Homo sapiens: one gene and its partners. The protein of the gene in region 1 interacts with the protein of each later gene in a biochemical or structural test. Each region holds a gene or a part of one and is shown on either strand. Other genes may lie near its edges.

What was found.
Region 2: the proteins of KLK2 (region 1) and SERPINB6 form a complex in vitro, tested with the Homo sapiens proteins (one study listed by BioGRID).
Region 3: the proteins of KLK2 (region 1) and SERPINF2 form a complex in vitro, tested with the Homo sapiens proteins (one study listed by BioGRID).
Region 4: the proteins of KLK2 (region 1) and SERPINA3 form a complex in vitro, tested with the Homo sapiens proteins (one study listed by BioGRID).

Annotation. Positions count from the first base shown.
Region 1 is NC_000019.10:50,868,981-50,876,476, forward strand, and holds the start of KLK2 (kallikrein-2 isoform 1 preproprotein), read left to right. Parts: upstream 1-4,458; 5' UTR 4,459-4,493; coding exon 4,494-4,539; intron 4,540-5,740; coding exon 5,741-5,900; exon of another isoform or gene 5,901-5,986; intron 5,987-7,491; coding exon 7,492-7,496. UniProt on the Homo sapiens protein: Glandular kallikreins cleave Met-Lys and Arg-Ser bonds in kininogen to release Lys-bradykinin.
Region 2 is NC_000006.12:2,968,554-2,975,558, reverse strand, and holds the start of SERPINB6 (serpin B6), read left to right. Parts: upstream 1-3,991; 5' UTR 3,992-4,026; exon of another isoform or gene 4,027-4,410; coding exon of another isoform or gene 4,411-4,442; exon of another isoform or gene 4,443-4,754; coding exon of another isoform or gene 4,755-4,801; intron 4,802-4,835; exon of another isoform or gene 4,836-6,747; coding exon of another isoform or gene 6,748-6,780; intron 6,781-7,005.
Region 3 is NC_000017.11:1,752,825-1,755,765, forward strand, and holds the end of SERPINF2 (alpha-2-antiplasmin isoform a precursor), read left to right. Parts: intron 1-1,297; coding exon 1,298-1,710; 3' UTR 1,711-2,441; downstream 2,442-2,941.
Region 4 is NC_000014.9:94,607,491-94,615,390, forward strand, and holds the start of SERPINA3 (alpha-1-antichymotrypsin precursor), read left to right. Parts: upstream 1-4,900; 5' UTR 4,901-4,957; exon of another isoform or gene 4,958-5,049; intron 5,050-5,856; exon of another isoform or gene 5,857-5,879; intron 5,880-6,545; exon of another isoform or gene 6,546-6,749; intron 6,750-6,943; 5' UTR 6,944-6,951; coding exon 6,952-7,594; intron 7,595-7,900. UniProt on the Homo sapiens protein: Although its physiological function is unclear, it can inhibit neutrophil cathepsin G and mast cell chymase, both of which can convert angiotensin-1 to the active angiotensin-2.

The DNA of each region.
Region 1 (7,496 bases):
GGACCATGATTAGACATTGTCTGCAGAGAAATTATGGCTGGATGTCTCTGCCCCGGAAAGGGGGATGCACTTTCCTTGACCCCCTATCTCAGATCTTGACTTTGAGGTTATCTCAGACTTCCTCTATGATACCAGGAGCCCATCATAATCTCTCTGTGCCCTCTCCCCTTCCTCAGTCTTACTGCCCACTCTTCCCAGCTCCATCTCCAGCTGGCCAGGTGTAGCCACAGTACCTAACTCTTTGCAGAGAACTATAAATGTGTATCCTACAGGGGAGAAAAAAAAAAGAACTCTGAAAGAGCTGACATTTTACCGACTTGCAAACACATAAGCTAACCTGCCAGTTTTGTGCTGGTAGAACTCATGAGACTCCTGGGTCAGAGGCAAAAGATTTTATTACCCACAGCTAAGGAGGCAGCATGAACTTTGTGTTCACATTTGTTCACTTTGCCCCCCAATTCATATGGGATGATCAGAGCAGTTCAGGTGGATGGACACAGGGGTTTGTGGCAAAGGTGAGCAACCTAGGCTTAGAAATCCTCAATCTTATAAGAAGGTACCAGCAAACTTGTCCAGTCTTTGTATCTGACGGAGATATTATCTTTATAATTGGGTTGAAAGCAGACCTACTCTGGAGGAACATATTGTATTTATTGTCCTGAACAGTAAACAAATCTGCTGTAAAATAGACGTTAACTTTATTATCTAAGGCAGTAAGCAAACCTAGATCTGAAGGCGATACCATCTTGCAAGGCTATCTGCTGTACAAATATGCTTGAAAAGATGGTCCAGAAAAGAAAACGGTATTATTGCCTTTGCTCAGAAGACACACAGAAACATAAGAGAACCATGGAAAATTGTCTCCCAACACTGTTCACCCAGAGCCTTCCACTCTTGTCTGCAGGACAGTCTTAACATCCCATCATTAGTGTGTCTACCACATCTGGCTTCACTGTGCCTAACCAAGATTTCTAGGTCCAGTTCCCCACCATGTTTGGCAGTGCCCCACTGCCAACCCCAGAATAAGGGAGTGCTCAGAATTTCGAGGGGACATGGGTGGGGATCAGAACTTCTGGGCTTGAGTGCAGAGGGGGCCCATACTCCTTGGTTCCGAAGGAGGAAGAGGCTGGAGGTGAATGTCCTTGGAGAGGAGGAATGTGGGTTCTGAACTCTTAAATCCCCAAGGGAGGAGACTGGTAAGGTCCCAGCTTCCGAGGTACTGACGTGGGAATGGCCTGAGAGGTCTAAGAATCCCGTATCCTCGGGAAGAAGGGGCTGAAATTGTGAGGGGTTGAGTTGCAGGGGTTTGTTAGCTTGAGACTCCTTGGTGGGTCCCTGGGAAGCAAGGACTGGAACCATTGGCTCCAGGGTTTGGTGTGAAGGTAATGGAATCTCCTGATTCTCAAAGGGTCAGAGGACTGAGAGTTGCCCATGCTTTGATCTTTCCATCTACTCCTTACTCCACTTGAGGGTAATCACCTACTCTTCTAGTTCCACAAGAGTGCGCCTGCGCGAGTATAATCTGCACATGTGCCATGTCCCGAGGCCTGGGGCATCATCCACTCATCATTCAGCATCTGCACTATGCGGGCGAGGCCGGCGCCATGACGTCATGTAGCTGCGACTATCCCTGCAGCGCGCCTCTCCCGTCACGTCCCAACCATGGAGCTGTGGACGTGCGTCCCCTGGTGGATGTGGCCTGCGTGGTGCCAGGCCGGGGCCTGGTGTCCGATAAAGATCCTAGAACCACAGGAAACCAGGACTGAAAGGTGCTAGAGAATGGCCATATGTCGCTGTCCATGAAATCTCAAGGACTTCTGGGTGGAGGGCACAGGAGCCTGAACTTACGGGTTTGCCCCACTCCACTGTCCTCCCAAGTGAGTCTCCCAGATACGAGGCACTGTGCCAGCATCAGCTTCATCTGTACCACATCTTGTAACAGGGACTACCCAGGGCCCTGATGAACACCATGGTGTGTGCAGGAAGAGCGGGTGAAGGCACGGACTCCTGTGTGGTCAGAGCCCAGAGGGGGCCATGACGGGTGGGGAGGAGGCTGTGGACTGGCTCGAGAAGTGGGATGTGGTTGTGTTTGATCTCCTTTGGCCAGATAAAGTGCTGGATATAGCATTGAAAACGGAGTATGAAGACCAGTTAGAATGGAGGGTCAGGTTGGAGTTGAGTTACAGATGGGGTAAAATTCTGCTTCGGATGAGTTTGGGGATTGGCAATTTAAAGGTGGTTTGGGATGGCATGGCTTTGGGATGGAAATAGGTTTGTTTTTATGTTGGCTGGGAAGGGTGTGGGGATTGAATTGGGGATGAAGTAGGTTTAGTTTTGGAGATAGAATACATGGAGCTGGCTATTGCATGCGAGGATGTGCATTAGTTTGGTTTGATCTTTAAATGAAGGAGGCTATTAGGGTTGTCTTGAATTAGATTAAGTTGTGTTGGGTTGATGGGTTGGGCTTGTGGGTGATGTGGTTGGATTGGGCTGTGTTAAATTGGTTTGGGTCAGGTTTTGGTTGAGGTTATCATGGGGATGAGGATATGCTTGGGACACTGGATTCAGGTGGTTCTCATTCAAGCTGAGGCAAATTTCCTTTCAGACGGTCATTCCAGGGAACGAGTGGTTGTGTGGGGGAAATCAGGCCACTGGCTGTGAATATCCCTCTATCCTGGTCTTGAATTGTGATTATCTATGTCCACTTCTGTCTCCTTCACTGTACTTGGAATTGATCTGGTCATTCAGCTGGAAATGGGGGAAGATTTTGTCAAATTCTTGAGACACAGCTGGGTCTGGATCAGCGTAAGCTGCTCTGGTTTTATTGAACAGATGAAATCACATTTTTTTTTTCAAAATCAAAGAAATCTTATAGAGTTAACAGTGGACTCTTATAATAAGAGTTAACACCAGGACTCTTATTCTTGATTCTTTTCTGAGACACCAAAATGAGATTTCTCAATGCCACCCTAATTCTTTTTTTTTTTTTTTTTTTTTTTGAGACACAGTCTGGGTCTTTTGCTCTGTCACTCAGGCTGGAGCGCAGTGGTGTGATCATAGCTCACTGAACCCTTGACCTCCTGGACTTAAGGGATCCTCCTGCTTCAGCCTCCTGAGTAGATGGGGCTACAGGTGCTTGCCACCACACCTGGCTAATTAAATTTTTTTTTTTTTTTTGTAGAGAAAGGGTCTCACTTTGTTGCCCTGGCTGATCTTGAACTTCTGACTTCAAGTGATTCTTCAGCCTTGGACTCCCAAAGCACTGGGATTGCTGGCATGAGCCACTCACCGTGCCTGGCTTGCAGCTTAATCTTGGAGTGTATAAACCTGGCTCCTGATAGCTAGACATTTCAGTGAGAAGGAGGCATTGGATTTTGCATGAGGACAATTCTGACCTAGGAGGGCAGGTCAACAGGAATCCCCGCTGTACCTGTACGTTGTACAGGCATGGAGAATGAGGAGTGAGGAGCCACCGGAACCCCATATTGTTTAGTGGACATTGGATTTTGAAATAATAGGGAACTTGGTCTGGGAGAGTCATATTTCTGGATTGGACAATATGTGGTATCACAAGGTTTTATGATGAGGGAGAAATGTATGTGGGGAACCATTTTCTGAGTGTGGAAGTGCAAGAATCAGAGAGTACTGAATGCCAACGCTTCTATTTCAGGAACATGGTAAGTTGGAGGTCCAGCTTCTGGGCTCAGACGGGTATAGGGACCAGGAAGTCTCACAATCCGATCATTCTGATATTTCAGGGCATATTAGGTTTGGGGTGCAAAGGAAGTACTTGGGACTTAGGCACATGAGACTTTGTATTGAAAATCAATGATTGGGGCTGGCCGTGGTGGCTCACGCCTGTAATCTCATCACTTTGGGAGACCGAAGTGGGAGGATGGCTTGAGCCCAGGAGTTGGAGACCAGCCTAGGCAACATAGCCAGACCCTCTCTCTACAAAAAAATTAAAAATTAGCTGGATGTGGTGGTGCATGCTTGTGGTCTCAGCTATCCTGGAGGCTGAGACAGGAGAATCGGTTGAGTCTGGGAGTTCAAGGCTACAGGGAGCTGCGATCACGCCGCTGCACTCCAGCCTGGGAAACAGAGTGAGACTGTCTCAGAATTTTTTTAAAAAAGAATCAGTGATCATCCCAACCCCTGTTGCTGTTCATCCTGAGCCTGCCTTCTCTGGCTTTGTTCCCTAGATCACATCTCCATGATCCATAGGCCCTGCCCAATCTGACCTCACACCGTGGGAATGCCTCCAGACTGATCTAGTATGTGTGGAACAGCAAGTGCTGGCTCTCCCTCCCCTTCCACAGCTCTGGGTGTGGGAGGGGGTTGTCCAGCCTCCAGCAGCATGGGGAGGGCCTTGGTCAGCATCTAGGTGCCAACAGGGCAAGGGCGGGGTCCTGGAGAATGAAGGCTTTATAGGGCTCCTCAGGGAGGCCCCCCAGCCCCAAACTCACCACCTGGCCGTGGACACCTGTGTCAGCATGTGGGACCTGGTTCTCTCCATCGCCTTGTCTGTGGGGTGCACTGGTGAGATTGGGGGGATAAAGGAAGGGGGGCGGGTTCTGACTCTTATGCTGAAGCCCTTTTCCTCCCACCCAGTGCCCCAGCCTCGTCCCTTCAGCCCACAGTTCAGCCCAGACAATGTGCCCCTGACTCTTCCACATTGCAATAGTCCTCATGCCCACACTAGGTCCCCGCTCCCTCCCACTTACCTCAGACCTTTCTCTCCATTGCCCAGCCAAATCCCTGCTCCCAGCTGCTTTACTAAAGAGCAAGTTCCTGGGCATCTCTGTGTTTCTCTTTATGGGGTTCAAAACCTTTCAAGGACCTCTCTCCATGCCACTGGTTCCTTGGACCCTATCACTGGGCTGCCTCCTGAGCCCCTCAGTCCTACCACAGTCTACTGACTTTTCCTATTCAGCTGTGAGCATTCAACCCTGTCCCCTGGACCTTGACACCTGGCTCCCCAACCCTGTCCCAGGAAACCCAGATTCCACCAGACACTTCCTTCTTCCCCCCGAGGCTATCTGGCCTGAGACAACAAATGCTGCCTCCCACCCTGAGTCTGGCACTGGGACTTTCAGAACTCCTCCTTCCCTGACTCTTTGCCCCAGACCCGTCATTCAATGGCTAGCTTTTTCCATGGGAAAAACACGAGCACCCCCAACCACAACGGCCAGTTCTCTGATTCCCTAAATCCGCACCCTTTTCAAAACCTCAAAAACAAAACAAAACAAAACAAAGCAAGAAACAACTCAGGCAGAACTGTTTGCTTAACCTTGGACATGGTAAACCATCCAAAACCTTCCTCTCCCAGCAACTAAACCTCTCCACTGGGCACTTATCCTTGGTTTCTGGAACCTCTTATTCTCTTAGAACCCACAGCTGCCACCACAGTGTCCCTTCTCCCAGTGTAAGACCCCAAATCACTCCAAATGACCCAACCCCCAACCCGATGCCTGCTTCAGATGTTTCCCATGTCCCCTACTCTGATCTCTGGGGTCAGCTCCGTTCTCAGAGCATGAAGCCTCCCGACCTGGTCCAGCCACCAACCCGCTAACGCAGGGAATAGCTACAGAATTGCCAGCCCTCCCAGGACCCCTTGCTTGTGTCCTGGACTCCCAGTCCTGGTCCTCTGCCCCCATGTCTCTTCAAACCCACAGCTCAGCTCCCTCCCCTATCCAATTCTTTTGGGTCTGATCCCCCTGACCCAGCACCCCCTCCGCAGGTGCCGTGCCCCTCATCCAGTCTCGGATTGTGGGAGGCTGGGAGTGTGAGAAGCATTCCCAACCCTGGCAGGTGGCTGTGTACAGTCATGGATGGGCACACTGTGGGGGTGTCCTGGTGCACCCCCAGTGGGTGCTCACAGCTGCCCATTGCCTAAAGAAGTAAGTAGGACCCTGGGATCTGGGGAGGGAATGGCTGTGTCCCACAGGAATAACAGCGGGATGCTTCCCCCAGGGTCACTTCTCAGGTGAGGCTTCAGACTAAAGGAGAGAGGGAAGGTCCTGGCCCAGGTCGCACCCGGAGGCAGAGCTGGGGCTGGACCACTCTCCCCATGGCTGCCTGGGTTTCTCTCTGTGTCTGATCTCGCTGTGTCTCTTGGTATCTGGCTCTGGTTGTGTCTGTATGACTGTGTTTTGGTCTCTATGTCCCTCTCTCTTTTCTGTCTCCCTGTGTCTGTGTCTCCCCCGTCTCTGTCTCTGGGTCTCTCTGTGGCCATCTCTGTCACCGTGTGTCTCACCCTGCATCTCTTTGCCTGTCTTTCTCTCTGGGTCTCTGCCTCAGCCCTTCCTCATCACTACTGAACACACCCCGTGAGGGTGGGTGGGGAGCACCCAGAAAAAGGAAGGACTTTAAGCTCAATGTGTGTGCATGTGAGGGGGTGCCTGTCATTGCACAGCACTCTCTGCAGGACATCCCTCCACCCTGGGGAGACACAGGGAGGGCTGGTTTCAGCTGTAGCTGGGTGCACAATTGAGGAGGGAGGAAGGAGAAGGGGAAACAAGAAAGGAGGGGAAGGTGGCCGGGCACGGTGGCCCACGCCTGTAATCCCAGCACTTTGGGAGGCCGAGGTGGGTGGATCATCTGAGGTCAGGAGTTTGAAACCAGCCTGGCCAACATGGCAAAACCCCGTCTCTACTAAAAATACAAAAAGTAGCCAGGCGTGGTGCTGCGCGCCTGTAATCCCAATTACTAGGGAGGCTGAGGCAGGAGAATCGCTTGAACCCGGGAGGGAGAGGTTGCAGTGAGCCGAGATCGTGCCACTGCACTCCAGCCTGGGTGACAGAGCAAGACTCCATCTCAGAAAAAACAAACAAACAAACAAACAACAAAAAAAATCGAAAGGAGGGGAAGGGAGCTGGAGAGAGAAAGGGGGACGTGGCCCTGAGCTGTGGGCCGGGCCACCCGCCACTACAGAGCCCTCACTCCAGCCCCAGCTGCAGGTGAGCCACCCTCATGCCTCTCCTCCTCCCCCTGCTACTCCACACTCCTCAGATGCCCCCGTGGCCTCCCTCCTTTTTCTCTCCCACACTGTATCACCCCTGGCTTCCTCTCTGCTGTTTCTCCTTCTCTCTCTGACTTCCCGCATCCTTTTCTCATTTGTCTATTTCTCACTCCCTTCCTGGTTCTGTTCTTTCTCCCTTCCTCTTCCCCATGTCTATTTCTTGCTGTCTCTGTCTCTTCTTTGCTCATCCTAATTCTCACTGTTCTCCCTTCTGTTTTTGTCATTCCTCTGCCATTTTATGCTCTCTCTTTTCCACTTCGTTTCTTTCAGTTTCTGTCTCTGCCTCTCACATGATCACACTCCTGTTTTCTAACTCACTGTCTGTATTTCACCACGACTATATCTCCCCGACCCCTGTGCTTTTCTCACTGTTTCTTTTTCTTCCCTTTGGAGTCTCCCTTATCCTCCCCTGCCCCATCTACCTTTCCCCATTTTCTCTCTCCTCATGCATCCACCCCCTTCCTCCCCAGGAATA
Region 2 (7,005 bases), on another chromosome or scaffold:
AACAAAACTTTAAAGGAAAAAGGAAAAAAATTATTTGAAGGAACAGAAAGACCCAGCATGTTCTTGGCTAGAACAACTAAATCAAAGTACAAATGTTGGTTTATAACAGGGTAATATGTAAATTCAATATGTTTCTAATAGATTACCAACAAGATTTATTTTTATTTTCATTTATTTTATTTTTATTTTATTTTATGTTTTTGAGACAGAGTCTCGCTCTGGTGATCCACTCACCTCTGCCTCCCAAAGTCCTGGGATTATAGGCGTGAGCCACTGCATCTGGCCTGTTTGACTACAGTTTAATTTTATTTTTTTAATTATTATATATATATTTTTTTGAGACAGGGTCTCGCTCCATCATCCAGGCTGGAGTATAATGGCACCATCTCAGCTCACTGTAACCTCTGCCTCCCAGGTTCAAGCAATTCTCCTGCTTCAGCCTCCCAAGCAGCTGGGATTATAGGCACACGCCACCAGGTCCAGCTAATTTTTGTATTCTTAGTAGAGATGGGGTTTCACCATGTTGGCCAGGCTGGTCTTGAACTCCTGACCAAGTGATCTGCCTGCCTTGGCCTCTCAAAGTACTGAGACTACAGGTGTAAGCCACCATGCCCTGCCAACAAGATTTTTTTCTTTAGAGCTAGACAAGTTGACTCTTAAATTTGTATGGGTGAGGCCGGGTGCGGTGGCTGACACCTGTAATCCCAGCACTTTGGGAGGCTGAGGAGGGTGGATCATGAGTTCAGGAGTTTGAGACCAGCCTGGCCAACATGGTGAACCCTCATCTCTACTAAGAATACAAAAATTAGCTGGGTGTGGTGGCATGCGCCTGTAATACCAGCTACTTGGGAGGCTGAGGCATGAGAATCGCTTGAACTCAGGATATGGAGGTTTCAGTGAGCCAAGATCGCACCACTGCACTCCAGCCTGGGTGACAGAGAGGGACTCCAGCTCAAAAAAAAAAAAAAAAGTTTGTATGGGAGAAAAAGCAACAAGGAGAGCCAGGAAAATCTGAAGCAGAAGAGCAGTAAGGAGAATGCGCTGTACGAGATATTGAATCATAAGAGAAAACCTCTATAACTGAAAGAATCTGACCAACAGAACCAAATAGAAAGTTTAGAAAGTTCAGAATCAGACCCAAGTATATGCAGCTATTTGATATATAACATAGGTGGCATGTGAAGACATTAGTGAAAATGGTTTTTCAATAAACAGAGGTGGAAAAACTGAAAGTCACTTGAAAGCGAGTTAAAATTGGATCTATATTTCCCATACACCAGAATAAACTTTAAAGGGATCAGCAATCTAAATATAAAAAATAAAACTGTGCAAATACTAGAAGAAAACATTAGTGAACTCTATAATCTAGAGATTATTCTTTTTTTTAAAAAAAAAGAGATTGCTCCTTGTGAATAGAGAAAGTTTTTCTAACTACGACTCAGAAACAATAAAGGAAAAATCATTAAAGTTGACTACATTAAAAGAGTGTATGCCAAAATCACCAGAAGCAATGTCAGAAAACAGATGACAAGCTGGGGGAAATATTCGCAATTTATATCACTTAAGACTAATTAAGCCACAACTAGGGAGGGGCGTGTGGTTTGCTCCTGGCATCCACTTGGTGAATCTCCTCCAGAGATTCTGTGAAACATGTGTGATGGCAGGACAGCCCCCACAACCACAAGTTATCGGGTTCATGCGGTCAACAGTGTCGCAGTTGAGAAACTCTGCCTTAGGGTAAGCACAGAGGGAGTAAAACAGCTTGAGTTCTCAAAATTGAACTCATGTAAAACACCTGGCTAGTATCTTCCCTACTTCCATTTATGCTAGATGTTTCTGTTTTCCAAGACTGCTCTGTCTGAGATGGCAGATGGAGTTTTCATACTTACTTGGCTAACCTGTCAGTACCCTGGGGTCTAATTCCTATGCCTGGAGAGAACTGGAAGTCCTTGAACACACGGCTCAATGATGTGGGCTCTGCTCATTTATATACATTTATTTTTAAATTTAATATATATTTTAGTTTTTTTATTTCCATAGTTTTTTGGAGAACACGTGGTATTTGGTTACATGGCAAGCTTTTTTTTTTTTTTCCTGAGATGGGGTCTTGCTCTGTTGCCCAGGCTGGGGTGCAGTGGCATGATCTCAGCTCACTGCAACCAACCTCCGCCTGCTAGATTCAAGCAATTCTCCTGCCTCAGCCTCCTCAGTAGCTGGCACTACAGATGTGTGCCACCATGCCTAATTTTTTTATATTTTTAGTAGAGACGGGGGTTTCACCATGCTGGCCAGGCTGGTCTCGAACTCCTGACCTCATGATCTGCCTGCCTTGGCCTCCCAAAGTGCTGAGATTACGGGCATGAGCCACTGCGCCCTGCCAAGTAAGTTCTTTAGTGGTGATTTGTGAGATTCTGGTGCATCTATCACCTTAGCAGTATACACTGAACTCAAATTTGTAGCCTTTTATCCCTCACTCCCTTCCCACCCTTTTCCCCCAAGTCCCCAAAGTCCATTGTATCATTCTTATGCCTTTGTATCCTCATAGTTTAGGTCCTACTTATGAGTGAGAACATACAATGTTTGGTTTTCCATTCCTGAGTTACTTCACTTAGAACAACAGTCTCCAATCCCATCCAGGTTGCCAATGCCATTAATTCATTCCTTTTTATGGCTGAGTAGCATTCCACCGTATACGCATACCACAGTTTCTTTATCCACTCTTTGATTGATGGGCATTTGGGTTGGTTTCATGTTTTTGCAATTACGAATTGTGCTGCTATTAACATGCGTGTGCAAGTATCTTTTTTGTATAATGACTTATTTTCCTCTGCGTAGATACCCAGTAGTGGGATTGCTGGATCAAATGGTAGTTCTATTTTTAGTTATTTAAGGAATCGCCATACTATTTTCCACAGTGGTTGTACTATCCATCAGCAGTGTAGAGGTGTTCCCTCTTCACCAAATCCACGCCAACATCTATTATTTTTTGAGTTTTTGATTTTTTGATTAAGGCCACTCTTGCGGGAGTAAGGTGGTATCACATTGTGGTTTTGATTTGCATTTCCCTAATCATTAGTGATGTTGAGCATTTTTTCTTGTTTGTTGGCCATTTGCATATCCTCTTTTGAGAACTGTCTATTCATGCCAGCCCACTTTTTGATGGGATTTTTTTTTCTTGCTAATTTGTTTGAGTTTCTTGTAGATTCTGGATATTACTGCTTTGTCGGATGTATAGATTGTGAAGATTTTCTCCCACTCTGTAGGTTGTCTGTTTACTCTGCTTGACTATTCCTTTTGCTTTGCAAAAGCTATTTAGTCTACTTTTTTTTTTTTTTTTTTTTTTTTTTTTTTTGAGACGGACCAGACTGGAGTGCGGTGGCGCCATCTCGGCTCACTGCAGCCTCTGCCTCCCGGGTTCAAGTGATTCTCCTGCCTCAGCTTCCCCAGCAACTGAGATTACAGGCACGCGCCATTACACTCGGCTAATTTTTGTATTTTTAGTAGAGACGGGGTTTTGCCATGTTGGCCAGGCTGGTCTGGAACTCCTGACCTCCAGTGATCCGCCTGCCTCGGCCTCCCAGTGTTGGGATTACTGGCGTGAGCCCCGCGCCCGCCCCTGGCTGGCTTCTTTGCCGCAAGCTGTTTCATCAGCAAAGTCTTTGTGACCTGTATCTAGTCTGCTCATTTTTAAATGCGTGTTCTGCACTCCCCAGTGGATGGCCGTGTATCAGGAGCCGGCCCTTTTCTGGAAACAGGCCAGCATTCAGTCTCCACAGAGGCACCATAAACACGCTGGTGGGGCCCTGTACTGTGGTCAAAGTCAAGGCCTCCGGGCAGGACTCGCGGCCCCTCCGGCTGGCGGGTGGGGTTGACCCGCACGTCCCGCCCCGCCTCTCCCTTCGCGCTCCGGACGGGCGACGGTAGCTCGAGACCCGGGACTCCGCCCGCCTCCCCGCGAGTATTTGAGGTCCGGGGCGGCTCCGGCGCCTCTGCCCGCCGTTCTGCTCGCTCGCTCCCCGCTCTGGAGTACGTGTCTGGCTTGGGAGCCGCTCGGACACGCTGGCTTGGGTTTGTCGCTCCAAAGTCGGGAAAGCCGGGGGCGCGAGCGGGGAGGGGGGCAGGGTGGGGGTCGCGCGGGGCCGGGAACGCGCGTGGGTCGACGGCGCGCGGGGACGCTGGAGCCCCGAGAATGGGGCGTGGCCGCGCGGGGCTGTGACCCCAGCAGTCCCAGCGGGGCGGGGGCCCGGGCGAGCGTCCGGCTTGGGTTCCCTTCCGGAGCCTCGCAGCGGCAGAGAACGGCGACGCGGCCGGGTGAGTCGTGCGTGGCCGCGAGCCCGGCCGGTGACGCCGCGGACCCGAGGACCCCGGGCGCCCAGGCCCAGCGCCCACGGAAGAGGCGGCCGGCGCGGGATGGGGGCGGCGCAGAGCCTCCCGGGCCACAGGTGACCCCGGTCGGCCCCGCGGCCTCGGTGACCCCTCGCCCGCTCCGCGACCCGGAGGACGCGTGCTCAGTCTTGGGGCGCCGGGTGTTAGGAGCCGGGCGGGAGGCGGAGAGAGGCCGAGGGGTTCGGCGCCAAACGGTGCCATCCGGGCCCCCTGCGTGTGTTCACTGGACTGGCCGTGCTGGGCTTGGCCAATCCGCAGCACTTTCAGGTCGCCCAGACCTGTGGAGACGATCGTGTGGACCAGCCCGGATCTCCTTACCGCTCTGTGTTTGAATTAAACTCCCTACAGGCAAACTATTACAGGCTTTGATGTCTTCAAGGCAAAGAGGAAACTTTAACTACAAATTGGCATTTAAGTTATTTTCTTCCTTTTTTTTTTTTTTTTTTTTGTCCTAAAGATTGGCTTCGGAAAACTGAGGTACAGAAAATTAATAATTAATGTTCACATGCTGTCAGGAATACTCAGATGCGAGGGGGCATCTGAGTCCATTTTTTGGGCACTTTTGCTTTCTGGGATGCTCTCGTGCCTAATGACAGCCCTGCAGCTGCCTGCATCCTTTCTGGTGGGGGTCAGGCCTGATGCGATGAGATCTGATGTGTTCAGTGACCTTCTAGTTAAGGTCCTGGGCCGGCCTTGTATTGCTGGGGCTTTTATGTGTGCTGGGATTAACACCAGTGACTGCTGTTATCAGCATAGATGGCGTTTGTTCTCATTTCAGGACCGTATCTGAGTAATTGCATCCATTGTGATGTGCCACCAAAGAGAAAAGTACTTTGGTCATACTCGACTATGTAAACTAAGTATTTTAAGTTAAGGCCAATTCCAATGCATTTTATTACAATTCAGCATGAAACAGTTAACACGGACCAGTAACAGTAGAGTGAAATTAGCATGAATAGAACCAACATTCTTTTCCACATATGTAATAATAAGGGCACCCAAGCAGATGTTGTACGGTCCCAGGGAAGACCACACACCTTACATTTCCAGGCTTACTGCACTTGGGATTAAGCCAAGGCATCCAAAGAAAGAAAATTTTTTTTTTTTTTTTTTTTGCCAGGCTGGAGTGCAGTGGTGCGATTTCGGCTGACTGCAACCTCCACCTCCCGGGCTCCATACCTGGCTAATTTTTGTATTTTTAGTAGCAATGGGGTTTCACCATGCTGGCCAGGCTGGTCTCAAACTCCTGACCTCGTGATCTGCCCGCCTTGGCCTCCCAAAGTGCTGGGATTACAGATGTGAGCCACTGCGCCTAGCCTGAAAATAATGTTTAACTCCCATTTATATGTTAGGCTGCTCAGATATATTAAACACATACACACACAACACACACACACACACACATACACACTGCACAAGGAAACAGAGGGACAAAGCAGGAAGTCCAAGTTTCCATTAAACCAGTCTTTAAATGGTTAAATTTAGTAGGAAATAAAGGCATCCTTAATAGAAGTTGAGAAGCACAATTCAATAGTGACACCTAAAAAAAAATTAAGACTTGATTAGTTGAATAAAATCAATTGTGAACATTGCTCAGTTACTGGTGATGCTACAGGAAAAAAAAAGTGATGCCAGGATAGATTTGTTAGGCTTGTTTAAAAAATACATAAAATTGTTCATTAATAAGACTTTAATATCCAGTTTTTATGTCTGTGATTAAATATCATTTTTTATTTTTAAATGGTATAGTTTTTAAATTTTGAAACAATTAATTTTGCATAAATATTTGTCTATGTACATATATACATGTGTATTCACATATATATATGAAGGACACTTAGCTATCTTATTTACTGAAGCTAAAGAAGTAGGTCCTTAAAAAGCCATTGACAGGTCTTGAGTTTGCAACGTGACTGTGAAACAGGCATCCTTGTTACTCACACGTTTGCTGAAAGGATAACAGAAAGCCCTCGATAGAAAAATCTCACTAGATTGTTTATAATTTGTTGATATTTGGAGTATCTTGAGTGGTAAACTTTAAATGTGGATTTATTTTTTCTTTCCTTTTAGGATTTGGATCTCTCCAATCTTTTTTATGATTAATTGTTCAGTGTTTATGCATTATTGCGAAGTGATAATGAAAATGCTCAAACTCAGGGTCCTGCAGGCACTGTGGGGGAGGCAGTGGGGACGTGAGGGGATTACAGATCCAGTAGAAGCCCCCCGACCCCCATCTGCTTCCACCCCATCTCCTTCCAGAACACCACCGATAGCCACACCGAAGAGTTCTCCCATTTGCTGGTTCCCGGACAAAAAAGCTGCTGATCCCTTGAGCACACTGCAGTGAAGCTCCCAGCTGACATGTCCTGTCCATGTAAACAGAACTTCCTCCATGTAAACAGAACTTCCAGCATTGTTTGTGTTTTCCTCTTAACTATGTACTGACATCCAAGGGTTGTTAGGAATGTTTGGAAAGTCTAGGTACAAAAGAGAGACCTAAATAAAATAAAGCAAACACCAGCCACCATAACAAAAGGACCCCAGAGATAGGCAGCGCAGGGAACGGAAGACTCAATAAACTATAATTGTGGTATCCAAAGAATTAGTATAGAAGGCAAA
Region 3 (2,941 bases), on another chromosome or scaffold:
AGGCTGGGCAGGGCGGGTAAGGAGGAAGCGTCTGGCTGGCAGTGGAGCTGAGTCAGAGCTGTCCTGTGTCCTGCTCTTTTCCAGGGCTTCGGGAGCGGGGAGAGGGTTGAATATGAGCCCCCAGACCCTCTGTCCTAGAGGAAGTTGGGGTGGCCCGGGGAATGGGGCTCTGCTTTGCTGCCCAAGACCTCGCATTGCAAGGAGAGTCTGGGTAGAGAGCCTGGGATGGCATGTGAGCCTCGCTGGCTTCCCTGGAAGGGGAAGGAGGAGAAGCTGGGGTGTCACACTGTTAAAGAAATGCTGGGTGGAGTGGCTCATGCCTGTAATCCCAGCACGTTGGGAAGCTGAAGTGGGTGGATTGCTTGAGCCCGGGAGTCCGACACCAGCCTGTGCAACACATTGAAACTCCGTCCCTACAAAAAATACAAAAATTAGCCAGGTGTGGTGCATGCTACTGGGGAGGTTGAGGTGGGAGGCCCTCTTGACCCCAGGTGGCTGAGGCTGCAGTGAGCCATAATTGTGCCACTGCACTCCAGCCTCAGCAAAAGAACTAAGACCTTGTCTCAAAAATAAAAATAAAGGCCGGGCATGGTGGCTCACGTCTGTAATCCTAGCACTTTGGGAGGCCAAAGAGGGTGGATCACCTGAGGTCATGAGTTTGAGACCAGCCTGGCCAACATGGCCAAACCCGTCTCCACTAAAAATACAAAAATTAGCCGGGCGTGGTGGCGCATGCCCATAATCCCAGCTACTTGGGAGGCTGAGGCAGGAGAATTGCTTGAACCTGGGAGGAGGAGGTTGCAGTGAGCCGAGATCACGCCACTGTACTCCAGCCTGGATGACAGAGTGAGACTCCATCTCAAAAAAAAATTATAATAACTAAAATAAATAAATAAAGCATCTATCCTTCAGCCATTTGCTAAGCAGCTGCTGTATTCCAGGCACTGTACCAGGTACCGGGAGCCCACCATGTACAAACAGCTGAGTCTAATGGGGTGGGCAGACGAGCAATCACATACTTACTACAGCATAAGCGATAAGACAGAGAGGGCTTCTCTCCAGCTCACCTGGGAGAACACTGAAAATGTACCTTGGTTGGACTTTAGAGCTGGGGATCAGGGAAGGCTTCCTGGAGGAGGTGGTGTTTAAGCTGAGTCTTGGAAACCGGATAGGAATGAAGCAGGTATCTGTGAGTTCAAGCTGTTCCCTGGCCAGGATCTCAGACACCCTCCCAAGCAGCTCCAGGAGCCTGTGAGGCCAAGGGCAGCTCTGACCAGCCATCTCTGGCCCTGGGCAGGCCTGCAGGAGTTGTTCCAGGCCCCAGACCTGCGTGGGATCTCCGAGCAGAGCCTGGTGGTGTCCGGCGTGCAGCATCAGTCCACCCTGGAGCTCAGCGAGGTCGGCGTGGAGGCGGCGGCGGCCACCAGCATTGCCATGTCCCGCATGTCCCTGTCCTCCTTCAGCGTGAACCGCCCCTTCCTCTTCTTCATCTTCGAGGACACCACAGGCCTTCCCCTCTTCGTGGGCAGCGTGAGGAACCCCAACCCCAGTGCACCGCGGGAGCTCAAGGAACAGCAGGATTCCCCGGGCAACAAGGACTTCCTCCAGAGCCTGAAAGGCTTCCCCCGCGGAGACAAGCTTTTCGGCCCTGACTTAAAACTTGTGCCCCCCATGGAGGAGGATTACCCCCAGTTTGGCAGCCCCAAGTGAGGGGCCGTGGCTGTGGCATCCAGAGTCCCTGCCTGGACCAGCCTCTCCACTCATGTGACTCTTTCCAACCGGCTTTGTGGCACTGGGGCAGGGGCCGGGGGCAGTCTGAGAGAGGCCATTCTTTCCCAACACCTCTTGGGGAGTTTAGGGTGGGGGGGGGGCGCGGCTGGGAGGAGGGCAGGCATCGGGGAGCCGGGAGCCTGACCCTCATCTTTCTTCCAAACAGGCTCAGAGGGTGTCCTGCACCGGGGCCTGGGCAGGAGGGAGGTGCTTCTAGTTCTGCCAGGAGACAGGTTAGCTGCTCCCCACGTCAGCTGGGACACCCCGACTTTTGTTTACCAGAGAAAAAGGGAGGGGGAGAGGGCTGCCTTTGGACTTGTCCCGGGACACCTAGGCTAGGGTGGGGAGAGACGGGCCCTGGTGGTGGCTCGGGAGGCGAAGCGTTGTCCTCAGCCCCGCGTGGAACTCGTGTCTGGCACAGCCTGGCTGTGGCCTAACCTGCCGAGAGTCCATCAGCCTCCATCCTACCCCCTGTGCCTTGTCACGCCAGACTTCCCACGGCTCCTCGAGATCCCAACACTGCCAGCATTTCCCTTCCTTCCTCTCCTGTCTCCCTCCTCTGCCCGGGAGCTCAGGAACCGAGGCAGGGAAGGATCCCATGAGCTCCTTAAGGCTCTTTTGTAAGGTTTTTGTAGTGATTTTTATGCCACCTGAATAAAGAATGAATGGGCCTGGCTGGTTTGATGTCACCGTTCTGGGCATGGGTGGGGACAAGTGAGGATGGTGGGGAAGGCAGGGAGGCGGCCGCAGGGTGGACTGTGCTGAGGAACCCTGGGCCCAGCAGGGGTGGCAGCCCGCGCAGTGCCACGTTTGGCCTCTGGCCGCTCGCCAGGCATCCTCCACCCCGTGGTCCCCTCTGACCTCGCCAGCCCTCCCCCGGGACACCTCCACGCCAGCCTGGCTCTGCTCCTGGCTTCTTCTTCTCTCTATGCCTCAGGCAGCCGGCAACAGGGCGGCTCAGAACAGCGCCAGCCTCCTGGTTTGGGAGAAGAACTGGCAATTAGGGAGTTTGTGGAGCTTCTAATTACACACCAGCCCCTCTGCCAGGAGCTGGTGCCCGCCAGCCGGGGGCAGGCTGCCGGGAGTACCCAGCTCCAGCTGGAGACAGTCAGTGCCTGAGGATTTGGGGGAAGCAGGTGGGGAAACCTTGGCACAGGGCTGACACCTTCCT
Region 4 (7,900 bases), on another chromosome or scaffold:
AGAGAAAGAAATAAAGGGTATTCAATTAGGAAAAAAGGAAGTCAAGTCTCTATTTGCAGATGACATGATTGTATATTTAGAAATCCCCATTGTCTCAGCCCAAAATCTCCTTAAGCCAATAAGCAACTTCATCAAAATCTTAGGATACAAAATCAATGTGCAAAAATCACACGCATTCCTATACAACAATAACAGACAAACAGAGAGCCAAATCATGAGTGAGCTCCCATTCACAATTGCTACAAAGAGAATAAAATACCTAGGAATCCAACTTACAAGGGATGTGAAGGACCTCTTCAAGGAGAACTACAAACCACTACTCAACGAAATAAAAGAGGACACAAACAAATGGAAGAACATTCCATGCTCATGGATAATAAGAATCAATATCATGAAAATGGCCATACTGCCCAAAGTAATTTATAGATGCAATGCTATCTCCATCAAGCTACCACTGACTTTCTTCACAGAATTGGAAAAAACTACTTTAAATTTCATATGGAACCAAAAAAGAGCCTGCATAGCCAAGACAATCCTAAGCCAAAAGAACCAAGCTGGAGGTATAACACTACCTGACTTCAAACTATATTACAAGGCTTCAGTAACCAAAACAGTATGGTACTGGTACCAAAACAGATATATAGAACAATGGAACAGAACAGAGGCCTCAGAAATAACACCACACATCTACAACCATCTGATCTTTGACAAACCTGACAAAAACAAGAAATGGGAAAAGGATTCCCTATTTAATAAATGGTGCTGGGAAAACTGGCTAGCCATATGTAGAAAGCTGAAGCTGGATCCCTTCCTTACACCTTATACAAAAATTAACTCAAGATGGATTAAAGACTTAAATGTAAGACCTAAAACCATAAAAACCCTAGAAGAAAACTTAGGCAATACCATTCAGGACATAGGCATAGGCAAAGACTTCATGACTAAAACACCAAAAGCAATGGCAACAAAAGCCAAAATTGACAAATGGGATCTAATTAAACTAAAGAGCTTCTGCACAGCAAAAGAAACTATCATCAGAGTGAACAGGTAACCTACAGAATGGGAGAAAATTTTTGCAATCTATCCATCTGACAAAGGGCTAATATCCAGAATCTACAAGGAACTTAAGCAAATTTACAAGAAAAAAACAAACAATCCCATCAAAAAGTGGGCGAAGGAGATGAACAGACACTTCTCAAATGAAGACATTTATGAAGCCAACAGACATATGAAAAAATGCTCATCATCACTGGTCCTTAGAGAAATGCAAATCAAAACCACAATGAGATACCATCTCATACCAGTTAGAATGGGGATCATTAAAAAGTCAGGAAACAACAGATGCTGGAGAGTATGCAGAGAAATAGAAATGCTTTTACACTGTTGGTGGGTCTGTAAATTAGTTCAACCTTTGTGGAAGACAGTGTGGCAATTCCTCAAGGATGTAGAACTAGAAATACAATTTGACCCAGCAATCCCATTACTGGATATATACCCAAAGGATTATACATCATGCTACTATAAAGACACATGCACACATATGTTTATTGTGGCACCATTCACAATAGCAAAGACTTGGAACCAACCCAAATGTCCACCAATAATAGACTGGATAAAGAAAATATGGCACATATACACCATGGAATACTATGCAGCCATAAAAAAGGATGAGTTCATGTCCTTTTCAGGGACATGGATGAAGCTGGAAACCATCATTCTCAGCAAACTAATACAGGAACAGGAAACCAAACACCACATGTTCTCACTCATAAGTGGGAGCTGAACAACGAAAACATATGGACACAGGGAGGGGACTATCACACATTGGGGCCTGTTGGGGGGTTGGGGGCTGGCAGAGGGATAGCATTAGGAGAAATACCTAATGTAAATGACAAGTTGATGGGTGCAGCAAACCAATATGGCACATGTATACCTATGTAAAAAACCTGCACGTTGTGCACATGTACCCCACAACTTAAAGTATAATTTAAGAAAAGAAAGAAAGAAGGAAAATGATGCTCTGAGGCCGGAGAACTTGAGAACACTCAGATAATGCTCTGAGGCAAGATGACTAGTCATCCCCAATGTCCACTCTCTTTGTCTCTCTCATGGTAATGGAACTCTGAATTTTTAGCTGGGAGGTGGCTACCTAGAATCTTGACTGCACTGCACAGCCTCCTTTGTAGCTAGGTATGGCCATGGGACAAAACTCCAGGCAACACAACACAAGTGGGAATGACAGGCAATGTTCAAGGCATTCCTTTCAAAAGAAAGGGTGTGCCCTTCCCTTCCCCTGTGGCCCTTTCTATGGACTGGAAGGTGGACATAGCAGTGAGCCATCTTAGCCTAGACAAACAGACGTGGAGGGGCAGCTGAGCAACCAGACAGGAGGACGTGGTTTCTGACAACGTGGAGGCACCATATCAACCCACTGCCTCCAGCTGGACCTGCAGGAGAGGGAAATGAACTTCAGTCTCATTTTAGCAACTATTTCTTTAGGATTCTGTGTAACTTAAACATATGTATTGGCCAGGTACAGTGGCTCACACCTGTAATTCCAGCACTTTGGGAGGCTGAGGTGGGAGGATCCCTTGAGGCCAGGATTTCAAGACTAGCCTGGACAACACAATGAAACCCTGCCTCTACAAAAAAATAAAAATTTAAAAATTAGCCAGGCATGGCGTTGTGCACCTATGGTTCCAGCTACTCAGAAGGCTGAGGCGGCAGGATATCTTGAGTCGAGGCGGCAGGATATCTTGAGTCCAGGAGTCAGAGTCTTCAGTAAGCAACGAGCAATGATTGCGCCACTACATTCCAGCCTGGGTGACAAAGCGAGTCTCTCTCTCTCTCTCTCTCTCTCTCTCTCTATATATATATATATATATATATAATATATATATAAAAATATATAATATATTATATATGTGTATACGTATATATGTATATATATACACACACACACATAGAGAGAGATATATATATAAAGACACACACACACACACACACACACACACACACACACACACACACATTCAATTCCAAAACTGGGAGCCTGAAAGTCATTTAAGAAAGATGGGCCCAGACAGTTATTGGTCATCTTAGTGCCTTACAGTCAACAAATATGTAAGTCCTCTAAAGATGCAGCACTATCGCAACAGACAAACAAAAAATCCTGTCCTCGTAGAGTGTACATTTAATATCATTTCATTTCATCTTGATTACCACTCTGTCAGGGAATATTGCCTTGCATCTTAGACATGAGGAAATTAAGCTGTAGAGATTTCCCATGATTTGTTTGAAGTGAGTCAGTTGGTGAGTCAGACATCAGAGATTCAAGCCAGGTCAGCTCATGCCAGAGCTAGAACCTCGCCACTGGTCTGGTGGCCTCCAAAGCATGCCCTCTAGAGAGGCCTGTCAGGGCTACCCCGGATGGGGACTGTGACCATGAGGAATCAAGAGGAAGGATTTTTTTTTTTTTGAGACAGAGTCTCTCTGTGTTGCCCAGGCTGGAGTGCAGTGGCGTGATCTTGGCTCACTGCAACCTCTGCCTCCTGGGTTCAAGCGATTCTCCTGCCTCAGCCTCGCCTCCCAAGTAGCTGGGTTACAGGCATGCGCCATGATGCCCTGCTAGTTTGTTTGTTTTTTTTTTTTTTGTATTTTTAGTAAAGATGGGGTTTCGCCATGTTGGCCAAGCTGGTCATGGACTCCTGACCTCAGGTGGTCTGCCCACGTCAGCCTCCCAAGATGCTGGGATTACCAGCATGAGCCACTAGTCCCGCCCAGGATTTTTTTTTTCCTTTTTCATGAGCCAAAGAAAGACCCCAGACTAGCTAAGAGAGAGGCCCAAGGATACCTGAAGGCCGGGGAGGAGGGACAACCACTTGTTGGGGTGAACCAATCGCAGAGGCTCAGCAGGACAGAGGCCAAGGCTGAGGAGGCCCCCACAGAGAAACAGAGCCTGAGGACAAGGGGTTCCTCACAACACCTGTGCTCCCCGAAAGCTCCCCTCCACACCCCTCTCTAGGTGCCCTACTCTCTGGGGTTGGTGAAGGGGTGCCAAAAATGCAAACTGATCCACAGAAAAATAGAGTCCTGTATTTTAAAAATATATCTAGGTTTGTATATGGACATTCACATCACACAGACACACAGACACACATGCAGCCACACACACACACACACACAGAGACACCAAAGAAAAGTGCTTTAGAAATACACCAAAATGTGGCTGGGTGCGGTGGCTCATGCCTGTAATCCCAGCACTTTGGGAGGCTGAGGTGGGCAGATCACGAGGTCAGGAGTTCAAGACCAGTCCGACCAACAAGGTGAAACCCTGTCTCTACGAAAAATACAAAAATTAGCTGGGCGTGGTGGTGTGTGCCTGTAGTCCCAGCTACTCGGGAGGCTGAGGCAGAAAGTTGCTTGAACCCGGGAGTCAGAGGTTGCAGTGAGCTGAGATCACGCCACTGCACTCCAGCCTGGGCAACAAAGCAAGACTCTGTCTCAAAATAAAAATAAAAAATAAAAAGAAATAAAAAAGAAATATACCAAAATGTTAGCTGGGGTCTTCTCTGGGTAGTAAAGTGCTGGGGGATATTTTCCAAAGTCCTTCTTTACATTCTCTGAGTTTTTCCATGTTCTTCAATGAGTATTTAATAAGCAGATAAAAACTAATACAACAAAGGATTTTTTCTGTGTGCTTTTTTGACCTTTGGAGGAAGAGATTAGAGCTAGTCCCATAACCAGGTTATTTGAGTAGGTCTAACAAGCCCGTATTACCAGAAATTATCATCTGGTCATTTCCAGTCCGAGAACAGAACACTTGGTTGTCCTGGCATTTCCCAAGCAGGGGGAGGAGTTCTCTGCAGGAATAAATAAGCCTCAGCATTCATGAAAATCCACTACTCCAGACAGACGGCTTTGGAATCCACCAGCTACATCCAGCTCCCTGAGGCAGGTAATCCATGATGTTTTACATCCTGGGAGCGGAGGAATCTGTTTTTCCAGGAGAGTTTTAGGCAGCAGCCTGGAGTGTGTGGAGTGTGAGGGGTAAGCAGAGGCCAGGAGGAGGTGTACTCAGGTGTTAGGGGCCAGGGGTCTGTTCTTGGCTGCCACTGATTCCCTGTGCCTTTTTTAGAGGCATCCTCTGTGTCTGGGTTTTCACACCTGCAAAGGGTGGAGGTGCCCTGGGGCCTCTATGGTCATTTCTGCCTTGATACTTACAGATTCGGATTTGAGTCAGCTGTGCATCTGACCCTCAGGGAAGAGGTGCTGTCCCCTTGCCTGGAGCAGGGTGCAGCTCTCAGAACATGTGGCAGATGTGATTATTGCAGCAGGTCCCTCTGAGCAGAGGCCACAGGCCTCACCATGATTTCAGGGTCTCCATGGGGCTGCCTCGGGAGCTCCACTTCCCCAAAAGGACCCCTGGCCAAGTCGACAGATGGGCTGTGTCTCTGTCCAGCAACAGAAAAGACAAACTGCTGGGAAACAGCCAGCCCTCCAACTTGCCCAAACAGAAAAGACAAGCCTTTGCCCCTGAAATAATTCTGGAGAAAAATATTGTCTAACATTTATCCAGAGAAATGATTGCATCAGCCTGAGAGTGAACAGTTGAAGCAAACAAGGTGCCTCTGTCCCTGGGCTTGGCCAAAGGCATTTCCACTGGCCTCCCCTCCTTCCCCTCCTTCCCCTCCTTCCCCTCCTTCCCTTCCTTTCCTTCCTTCCCTTCCTTCCACTCTCTCTTCCCCTTTTCTTCTCCTCTCTCTACCCCTCTCCCCTCCCCTCCCTTCCAATCGCCTCTCTTCCCCACTCTTCTCCCCAGCACCCAAGCTGCCCCTTTTCTCTTCTGAATTCTAGGACTGAGTGGGCGGAGGCTGAAGGTGAATAATCTTGTTTGCTGCGGTCACCGGCTTGGAACTCAGCCCTTCCAGGGTCTCTTGTGCAGTAGCTCATGGCTCTTCTCTGGCTTGTAGTTTCAGGAAAGGGGTAGTATGGGAGGTGGTGACTGCTCGGTACGTCTAATATGAACCAGGTGCCTTCATCATTTATCTCACCTGAGCCACTTAACAGGTTGTGCAGAGACGGAAACAGGTTGAGAGATGTACAGTCACCTGCTTGCCAGTACACAGCAATCAAAAGTGGCCAAAATAAAATCCCAGTCCAAGTCTGGGAGACTCCAAAGCCCTCTCTGCCTTCTCCCCACTAAGAGGCCCTTCCAGGCTTATGGTGGACACAGACACCACGTGGCAACCTGGCAGGGGCAGAGAAGAACATTTGCCTTTCTTTGGTCTTGCTGCCAACCATTATCAGGGCCATCGAGGCTCCAGACACTGTACCAGGGACTTTCATTTCCCTCTCTCAGTCGACCCTCACTGCCACCCAGCATCACATCGTGGAGGCCTGTGGAGGCCACACCACGTGACATCTAGAGGCTGGGAGAGTCACTGTGGCCTCTATCTCTGCCCAGGGCTCCTTCATCCCTGGGTTCTACTTTGGTGGCAGTTGGGAGAATGAAGGAAGGGAGCCCCTGCTTTCTAATCCCCTAGGATGAGATCTGCTCACCAAGCAGGAGAGGAGCAGGCATTCTGATTGGACTGAACCTCGGACCCCCCATCAGCTTACAGACCGAGGAGCCAGGCAAACCTGGCTGCCCACTGGGCTCCTTTACCTGTTTGCTGTATGATCTTGGGCAAGCCCCCTCACCGCTCTGTGCCCGGCTTTTCCACTGCAAGAAAATGGCAACAATTATGGTACCTACCTCAAAGGGTGAAATGAAGCAGAGTGATGTGTGTCGGGTGCCCCAGAGAGCACCTACCTGAGGGAGGCTCCAAAGCTAGCAAGAGGCAGCAGGACAGGGACCAGGACGCAGGCTGGGTGGAGGGCAGTGGGAGGTGGTCGGGGCTCCATCTGGCCCTCTGAGACTTAAAGGAGCTTTGCTTTTCAGAGTTGAGAATGGAGAGAATGTTACCTCTCCTGGCTCTGGGGCTCTTGGCGGCTGGGTTCTGCCCTGCTGTCCTCTGCCACCCTAACAGCCCACTTGACGAGGAGAATCTGACCCAGGAGAACCAAGACCGAGGGACACACGTGGACCTCGGATTAGCCTCCGCCAACGTGGACTTCGCTTTCAGCCTGTACAAGCAGTTAGTCCTGAAGGCCCCTGATAAGAATGTCATCTTCTCCCCACTGAGCATCTCCACCGCCTTGGCCTTCCTGTCTCTGGGGGCCCATAATACCACCCTGACAGAGATTCTCAAAGGCCTCAAGTTCAACCTCACGGAGACTTCTGAGGCAGAAATTCACCAGAGCTTCCAGCACCTCCTGCGCACCCTCAATCAGTCCAGCGATGAGCTGCAGCTGAGTATGGGAAATGCCATGTTTGTCAAAGAGCAACTCAGTCTGCTGGACAGGTTCACGGAGGATGCCAAGAGGCTGTATGGCTCCGAGGCCTTTGCCACTGACTTTCAGGACTCAGCTGCAGCTAAGAAGCTCATCAACGACTACGTGAAGAATGGAACTAGGGGGAAAATCACAGATCTGATCAAGGACCTTGACTCGCAGACAATGATGGTCCTGGTGAATTACATCTTCTTTAAAGGTGAGTGTGCCTGGCTTGGGGTTCAGAAGAGGTGGATCTCAGGGCCATTTCTGTCCTGACTCAACAATGGTGTTATTAGGCAAACCACTGTAGAGGAGAGTGCCCACAGCATGGGGGCAGCATAAGCATCAAGGCCCCACCCTGCCCATAGGCATCGCCGTCTCCTGTGGGGTTTTTCCAAATTACAGTTTGTCCTTGGAAGACATAATTCAGTGGAGCCCATCAGCCTCTGGTCTGAGTCAGTGTGGTGCTTTTCACTCTGATTTAAACTTGTCCGGCAAACAGAAAGAAGGAGCTCTCCTTTCA